Linked DNA regions of Homo sapiens: region 1 is linked to region 2. Evidence: fine-mapped expression QTL. A gene starts in region 2. The other region holds a variant in brackets. All regions are shown on one strand. Distances are from middle to middle. Region 1 overlaps LOC124904605. Region 2 holds the start of MIER2 (MIER family member 2).

What was found. PIP is the estimated chance that this variant, and not a neighbour inherited with it, causes the effect.
Region 1: its variant is fine-mapped to the expression of MIER2 in CD4 T cells (Kasela 2017, PIP 0.95).

What each region holds. Positions count from the first base shown.
Region 1 is chr19:299,957-304,134 of GRCh38, reverse strand. It overlaps LOC124904605, which reads left to right. Exons shown (of 2, transcript XM_047439789.1): 1 at 1-742; 2 at 809-2,053. The coding sequence ends at 1,714. Among named protein-coding and RNA genes, the nearest start is that of PLPP2, 11 kb to the right of the region's middle. The variant C/T (reference allele first, on the strand shown) is at 1,639.
Region 2 is chr19:342,198-346,375 of GRCh38, reverse strand. It overlaps MIER2 (MIER family member 2), which reads left to right and starts at 1,580. Exons shown (of 14, transcript NM_017550.3): 1 at 1,580-1,602. The coding sequence starts at 1,594. RefSeq lists silencers at 1,236-1,685, 1,756-1,805, 2,106-2,215 and an enhancer at 2,524-3,475.

The sequences.
Region 1 (4,178 bases), 42 kb after region 2:
TGAGAATGTGCTTTGGTGTATTGAGTCTGATGAGGATGTGCTTTGGTGTATTGAGGTGACTGATGAGAATGTGCTTTGGTGTATTGAGGTGTCTGATGAGGGTGTGCTTTGGTGTATTGAGGTGTCTGATGAGGATGTGCTTTGGTGTATTGAGGAGTCTGATGAGGATGTGCTTTGGTGTATTGAGTCCGATGAGGATGTGCTTTGGTGTATTGAGGTGTCTGATGAGAATGTGCTTTGGTGTATTGAGTCTGATGAGAATGTGCTTTGGTGTATTGAGTCTGATGAGGATGTGCTTTGGTGTATTGAGGTGTCTGATGAGAATGTGCTTTGGTGTATTGAGTCTGATGAGGATGTGCTTTGGTGTATTGAGGAGTCTGATGAGGATGTGCTTTGGTGTATTGAGTCTGATGAGGATGTGCTTTGGTGTATTGAGGTGTCTGATGAGAATGTGCTTTGGTGTATTGAGTCTGATGAGAATGTGCTTTGGTGTATTGAGTCTGATGAGGATGTGCTTTGGTGTATTGAGGTGTCTGATGAGAATGTGCTTTGGTGTATTGAGGAGTCTGATGAGGATGTGCTTTGGTGTATTGATGAGGATGTGCTTTGGTGTATTGAGGTGTCTGATGAGGATGTGCTTTGGTGTATTGAGTCTGATGAGAATGTGCTTTGGTGTATTGAGTCTGATGAGAATGTGCTTTGGTGTATTGAGTCTGATGAGGATGTGCTTTGGTGTATTGAGGTGTCTGATGAGAATGTGCTTTGGTGTATTGAGGTGTCTGATGAGGGTGTGCTTTGGTGTATTGAGGAGTCTGATGAGGATGTGCTTTGGTGTATTGAGTCTGATGAGGATGTGCTTTGGTGTATTGAGGTGTCTGATGAGGATGTGCTTTGGTGTATTGAGTCTGATGAGGATGTGCTTTGGTGTATTGAGTCTGAAGAGGATGTGCTGTGGTGTATTGAGGTGTCTGATGAGGATGTACTTTGGTGTATTGAGGTGTCTGATGAGGATGTGCTTTGGTGTATTGAGGAGTCTGATGAGGATGTGCTTTGGTGTATTGAGTCTGATGAGGATGTGCTTTGGTGTATTGAGGTGTCTGATGAGAATGTGCTTTGGTGTATTGAGGAGTCTGATGAGGATGTGCTTTGGTGTATTGAGGAGTCTGATGAGGATGTGCTTTGGTGTATTGAGGAGTCTGATGAGGATGTGCTTTGGTGTATTGAGTCTGATGAGGATGTGCTTTGGTGTATTGAGGAGTCTGATGAGGATGTGCTTTGGTGTATTGAGTCTGATGAGGATGTGCTTTGGTGTATTGAGGTGTCTGATGAGAATGTGCTTTGGTGTATTGAGGTGTCTGATGAGGGTGTGCTTTGGTGTATTGAGTCTGATGAGGATGTGCTGTGGTGTATTGAGGTGTCTGATGAGGATGTGCTTTGGTGTACTGAGGTGTCTGATGAGGATGTACTTTGGTGTATTGAGGTGTCTGATGAGGATGTGCTTTGGTGTATTGAGGAGTCTGATGAGGATGTGCTTTGGTGTATTGAGGAGTCTGATGAGGATGTGCTTTGGTGTATTGAGTCTGATGAGGATGTGCTTTGGTGTATTGAGTCTGATGAGGATGTGCTTTGGTGTATTGA[C/T]GAGGATGTGCTTTGGTGTATTGAGGTGTCTGATGAGGATGTGCTTTGGTGTACACGTACAGTATGTAGCCTTTGAGATTGGCTTCTTTCATATTCACTGAAGGCTTCGCCATGTCTTTTCGTGGCTTGATGGCTCATTTCTTTTTCGCGCTGGATGATACTCCATCCTGGGCGTGTGCTGCAGCTTGTTTATCTACGTACCTATTGAAGGACATCTTAGCTTCCAAGCTTCGGCAGTTACGCGTAAAGACATCTTAGCAGCTTCCAAGCTTTGGCAGTTACACATAAAGACATCTTAGCAGCTTCCAAGCTTCAGCAGTTACTCATAAAGCTGCTGTAAACGCCCATGTGCAGGTTTTTGTTTTGACACAACTTTTCAGCCCATTTGGATGAATAAAGAAACCTGATTGCCGGACCGTGTGATGAGACCGTGTTTAATGAGAAGCTGCCATTTCACTCCCACCAGCAATGAGTAAGCGCTCCTGAGGCCCATGTCCTCCCCAGTGTTTGGTGGTGTCAGTATTTTGTGTTTGGCCATTCGAATAGGTGTGTAGTGGGATCTTGTTTTCCATAGCCTTTGAAGATGTGTACATTTTCGTACCTTTCTGGCGCTCTTAAGTTCTTCATTCAGACTCCGTGTTGCCAAGAGGGATAATTTTCTTTGAGTCTGAAGTGCCGTATTTAATATATATTGCCTTGTAGTTCCTCTGCAGTGACATTCTGCCTAGGCTTAGCTCTTACGTGGATCAAAAGGCCCTAATTCCTCCTCCTCTTTTGAAGTGCATTTTTACAGGATATACGGTTCTAAGTGGACTGTGTTTTTCTCTGCGCATGTTAAGGTGGTTCTATTCATGCTGTTTTCTACTGTTCTGATGAGGAATTTTCTCATTCTGTTTTCCTTACTGTGAAATCTCTTACTTCTGACTATATACATGATTTTCTTTTATTTTTGGACTTTGGCCGTTTGTGATGCACCTGGGTCTAGCTTTCTAAACTGAGCTACTTCGACCTGAGGGTGGGTGCATTTTAACAGATTTTGAAGTCTTGACTGTTATTTCTGCAGATATTTCTGTTTTCTTTTGCTTTCTTAGAGTTCCATTTCTGAAGGAGTATTTCTCAAATTTTTCTGATGTCCCACTCTGTCTTTTGGGTCTTTGGTACATGTGCCCTGTCCTGGGTGCTGTCCCACAGTCTCTCCAGTCACTGGTGTCACGGCCCTGGGTGTCCCACAGTCCCTCCAGTCACTGGTGTCACGGCCCTGGGTGTTGTCCCACAGTCTCTGCAGTCACTGGTGTCACGGCCCTGGGTGTCCCACAGTCTCCAGTCACTGGTGTCACGGCCATGGGTGTCCCACAGTCTCTCCAGTCACTGGTGTCACGGCCATGGGTGTCCCACAGTCTCTCCAGTCACTGGTGTCACGGCCATGGGTGTCCCACAGTCTCTCCAGTCACTGGTGTCACGGCCCTGGGTGTCCCACAGTCTCCAGTCACTGGTGTCACGGCCCTGGGTGACCCACAGTCTCTCCAGTCACTGGTGTCACGGCCATGGGTGTCCCACAGTCTCCAGTCACTGGTGTCACGGCCATGGGTGTCCCACAGTCTCTGCAGTCACTGGTGTCACGGCCCTGGGTGACCCACAGTCTCTCCAGTCACTGGTGTCACGGCCCTGGGTGACCCACAGTCTCTCCAGTCACTGGTGTCACGGCCATGGGTGTCCCACAGTCTCTCCAGTCACTGGTGTCACGGCCATGGGTGTCCCACAGTCACTGTCACTGGTGTCACGGCCATGGGTGACCCACAGTCTCTCCAGTCACTGGTGTCACGGCCATGGGTGACCCACAGTCTCTCCAGTCACTGGTGTCACGGCCCTGGGTGTCCCACAGTCCCTCCAGTCACTGGTGTCACGGCCATGGGTGACCCACAGTCCCTCCAGTCACTGGTGTCACGGCCATGGGTGTCCCACAGTCTCTCCAGTCACTGGTGTCACGGCCCTGGGTGACCCACAGTCCCTCCAGTCACTGGTGTCACGGCCATGGGTGTCCCACAGTCCCTCCAGTCACTGGTGTCACGGCCCTGGGTGTCCCACAGTCTCTCCAGTCACTGGTGTCACGGCCCTGGGTGACCCACAGTCCCTCCAGTCACTGGTGTCACGGCCATGGGTGTCCCACAGTCTCTCCAGTCACTGGTGTCACGGCCATGGGTGTCCCACAGTCCCTCCAGTCACTGGTGTCACGGCCATGGGTGACCCACAGTCCCTCCAGTCACTGGTGTCACGGCCATGGGTGTCCCACAGTCCCTCCAGTCACTGGTGTCACGGCCCTGGGTGTTGTCCCACAGTCTCCAGTCACTGGTGTCACGGCCCTGGGTGTTGTCCCACAGTCTCTGCAGTCACTGGTGTCACGGCCCTGGGTGTCCCACAGCCTCCAGTCACTGGTGTCACGGCCATGGGTGTCCCACAGTCTCTCCAGTCACTGGTGTCCCGGCCATGGGTGTCCCACAGTCTCTCCAGTCACTGGTGTCACGGCCATGGGTGTCCCACAG
Region 2 (4,178 bases):
CCCAAGTCCTCATTTGACATCTATGTGATGATTCTTGCCAAGCCCTCTCCTAAGAGTCTTCCCTCGTTTTGCCAGGTGGACTCAAGCCCTTGTCTTCGGGCCCCTCCACCTGTTACAGCACAGCACCTCACTCTCTTATCTGTTCATGCTTCTCCCTGCTTCACAGGACCTCTGGCTACCCAGCACCCAGTTGAGGACTGCATAAGATATGTGTTTAGTTCACTGAATGACTGAATGAATAATAACAAATGAATAATAAAGGAAGGAACCAACTCTTGCACAAATCAGTGAGGACTCTTCAACACGAGGGCCAGAACCCTCAATCTCAATGATGTAAACCAAAAAAGGAGTGAGGGTAGACCCCTCCAGAGTGGTTCTTCTATCTCTTGGTTGGTGAATTCTCAGAGGACTGAGTAATGATTTTGCATCAGGAATCAAGGCTGATGCATGTCAAGTTCTCACTATTCATTGGCTGATCACTGGGAAACAGGAATGAGACTCATTCTCTTCTTCCTGGTCCCCAATTCCCTTCCTCCTGGTCCCCAATTCCCTTCTTCCTGGTCTCCAGTTCTCTTCTTCCTGGTCTCAGTAGGAACCGCCCTCCACTCATTTGCGCAAGCCAGACATCTGGAGGCCATCCTTCACTCTCTCCAGCTTCCCTCCATCAGCGAGTCTTGTGGTGTCCACCTTCTCAAGTCTCTCTGCACTCTGGTCCAGGCCCCACAGCTCCCACCTGGCCCCTGCCTCTTCACGCCCCACCCCTGCTTCCTATCCTCTCTCTGCATCGTGCGCCCCGAAGATTCACGGCACTTATCCGTCTCAAATTTAAGGTGTGGCGAGTCCTTGCCTTCCCATCCTCCACTCTAAACGCCCTGAAGACAGGCGTTAGGGCTGTCTCCTTCAAACCCTCAGGATCAGAACGTGCACGTGTTCCAGAAATGTTCAATCTGCGAAACGACGGACTGCAGAACCAAATGGCCCTGGGGTCAAGCCCACCTCCCTGCCTCCCGCCTTGGGCTCTCCGGCGCGGGGCCACCGTTTCTAAAACCTCTCCGACTGGTGCGCGTTCGCAAGCTCCCCGATTGGTTCCTCCGCGCGCTAGTTTGCTCATCACGGGTGCGAAAGTGCAGAAAATTCCAGAACCACGCAGCCCGGACACCAATTCTGGCTCTATCACTGACACTCTGGGTGGCCCGTCGCCCTGGGCCTCAGTTTCCTAGTCTGCCACGCGGGGTATTAACAGCGAGCAGCCGAGGGAATGAAGAGGTCACACAGGACCACGTGGTCCCCACGCAGGTGTGATTATCAGGAATTCGTATTTTTATGGAATGCAGTCTCCTCCGCCAAGGCCAAGGCCAAGATCAGGGTCCAGCAGAGACGGCCGGAAAGACACCGCAAGCTCGCCAGAAGCCGCCGGCCACGCTCGGCTGCGCGCCCGCGCCCGCGCCCGCGCACCTACTACGCGCCCGGCCCGCTCTCCGCCCCCTCCAGGCTCCGCCCCCTGCCCCGCCCTCCAGGCTCCACAGCCAATGAGTGCGCGGCCCCTCATCCGGGGATCCCGGCGCGGCCACCGCCTCCCGCGCACACACGGCCATGGCGGAGGTGAGTGAGCGGGCCGGGGGAGCCGGCCCCCCGCCCCCGCGCGTCCGCGCCCCCCGCCGCCGTGGCTCGGCCTCGTCGTGGGCCCCAGGGACGGAGAGCCCCGCTCTGGAGCTCTGAGGCCGGCCGGGGCGCCTGGCCCGTCCGGGGCCGGAGGGGCGCGGGGCTCCATCGGCGGCCGCCCCCGGCCGGCCCCCACCCCCCAACTCCCCCGGCTGCCACATCGCGGGCTGCAGTGCGCATGCGCGGCGGCGCGGGGCGGGCGGGGGCCGGGGTGGGGGAGGGGAGGGACGCGGGGCGGGGCTGGTGTCGGGGGTCCGGTGGGCGCGCGGCTCCGTTCCAGGGTCCGGCTCCGGTTCCCGGCCCCGGCCCGGGCCCCGCGGCGCGCAGGCCTCCCCTCCCGCGCCTTTGCCAACTTTGCCGAGTGCTGGGGCCGCCAGGCGCCCCGCGCTCCCCATCGGGATCCCGGTGGACCCACCGCGCCTCCGCCGCCCGCGAGCCCCCCGGCGGGGCTGGGTCAGACCCCGGGCGGGATTTGAACTCCCGACGCGGACCCGCCTGGCGCGAACTGGGCGCAGGGTGGGTGGGTCTGCCGGGGCCTAGAGAGCGTCGGGGCTGATCTCAGAAGAGTTGGACCAGCCTCTCCCGGGCACGAAGTTACTTCTGGAGCCTCCTCCCTCGTCCAGGAAACAAGCCCGGGACCCTTTATCTGAAATGTTTGGGACCAGCTATATTTTGGAATCCAGAATTTTTCCAATTTGAGGATCTGTGGGATTTTGGACTGTGATGTTTGATCAAACCCACCTAGGACTGTCTAGGATAAGACAACAGATAGCTTCGTGTCAGGTCAAACCAGGAAGGAAGAAACTTTCGCTTTTGAAGCTTTTTTTGATTTTGGAGTGGTGGATGAGCCTGTGTGGACTTGCTTTCACCTTGGAGGGCCCTGGTGAAGATGGAAAGAGATAATGTAGGTGAAGGTGCGGCGGCTGCGAGGTGCTCAGTCAGTGGGACTCAGTGCATGACTTCTGTGCGCAGAAGTTACGACAGGCGGGCAGACTCAAGAGCTGATCCTATCTCTGGGATAGAGCCCAAAGGAAAAGGTGCCCACCCAGCCAGGCACAGCCGCCTCGTGGGAAGCCGGGATTGGAACTGCGGCCTGGCCGTGGTGCCACGTTGCGTGTTTATGTCTTGGGCGTTGTGGGAGGCAGGACTGGCCATTCTCTCCCCCTGGTGACGACCTCAGGGGCAGTAACAGGCCCTGTGTTTATGCCAAAGACGGTGTAGGTGTCTCGATACTAGGCCAGACCACCGGCCAGTTCCTTCATCGAGAATTAGTTCTTCTTGAGACGCTTAGGGAGACTGAGTCCCCATGCAGATGGTGGCTGTCCTCCAGGGTCGGAGGCAGAAGCCGCGTCTCCCAGTGGCCCTGCAGCGACGTGGTGGTCGAATGAGTTGTGCTCCTGGAATCTGGGCAACACACGTGGCCTGACAGGTAGCTCTGTGTCTGGGATGGCACAAGTCAGACTCCCAAGCCAGCCTCCCCCAGAGCTGCCATGTGGCTGTTCTGCCCTGCTCTAGGCTGAGCTCCGTAAATGTGCACAGCAGCTTGTGGTCCGGCTGCTCCTGTTAACCCTGTTTTACACTTTGGGGTGGTGCCCTGTTGAGTGAATTTGATTTGATTTTCTAAGGAGGTCCCGCTCTGTCCTCGGCCTGAGGATCTGGGAGTGAATGGAGCAGACAGGGCCTCTCCTACAGGGATGCAGAGTCTGGTCAGAGAGAGACGTGGGTGGGTTAGGACCAACAAGTATGAGGTGCTGAGCGTGAGGAGCCATGGCAAGCTGTCTGACCACCGGACTTGTTCTGTGTGGTCTTGGGCAGGTTGCCCAGTGACTCAGAACTTCCTTTTCCTCATCTCTGAAATGGGAAGTTTAATGGTCACCCTTCAGAGCTAGGAGGTCTGATGAGGTCCTGCCACAACGGCTTGTACATGGAAGTTGAATCTTGTGAAGTTGACGATATTCCACTGTTTTTAACCCGTAAAAGTGGCAATTTGTAACTTTATAGCACGTGATCAGTACTAGCTACTTTATTCTGTATCAGTATCCCAGAATAATCATAAGCACCACAGTGGCAGACGGGAATGCTTCATACTTTTCTCAGGCATACTAGATTGATCTTTTAAAAACCTAAGAGCACCATCTTTTGCTCCTACCTAAAACCCTCCATGGCTTTTCATGGTCCCTGGGATAAAATGCTCCTCCTTGCTGAGTCCCACAGCCCTGTGAGGTGGTCCCCACGGATCTGCCCCCTACTCTAGGGCCCTGGGCTCCTGTTTGCTGGTGCACTCTACCCATTTGGGGGCTGCCAACGATGGTTCCACCTCGACTGAGGCCCCCCAGGCCTTCCCTGACCCGCAGTTGCAGAGCCCGTGCGCCCTGTTTTCTCTTCTCGGTACCATACATGTCCACTTGTTTGTTGTCTGTGTCCAAAACTAGCAACTCCATGTGGGTGGAGGCAGGTGGAACTTGTTTCTCAGGTTAACCACCACGCCACTGCCTTGCTGAGCCCAGAGTGGGCGC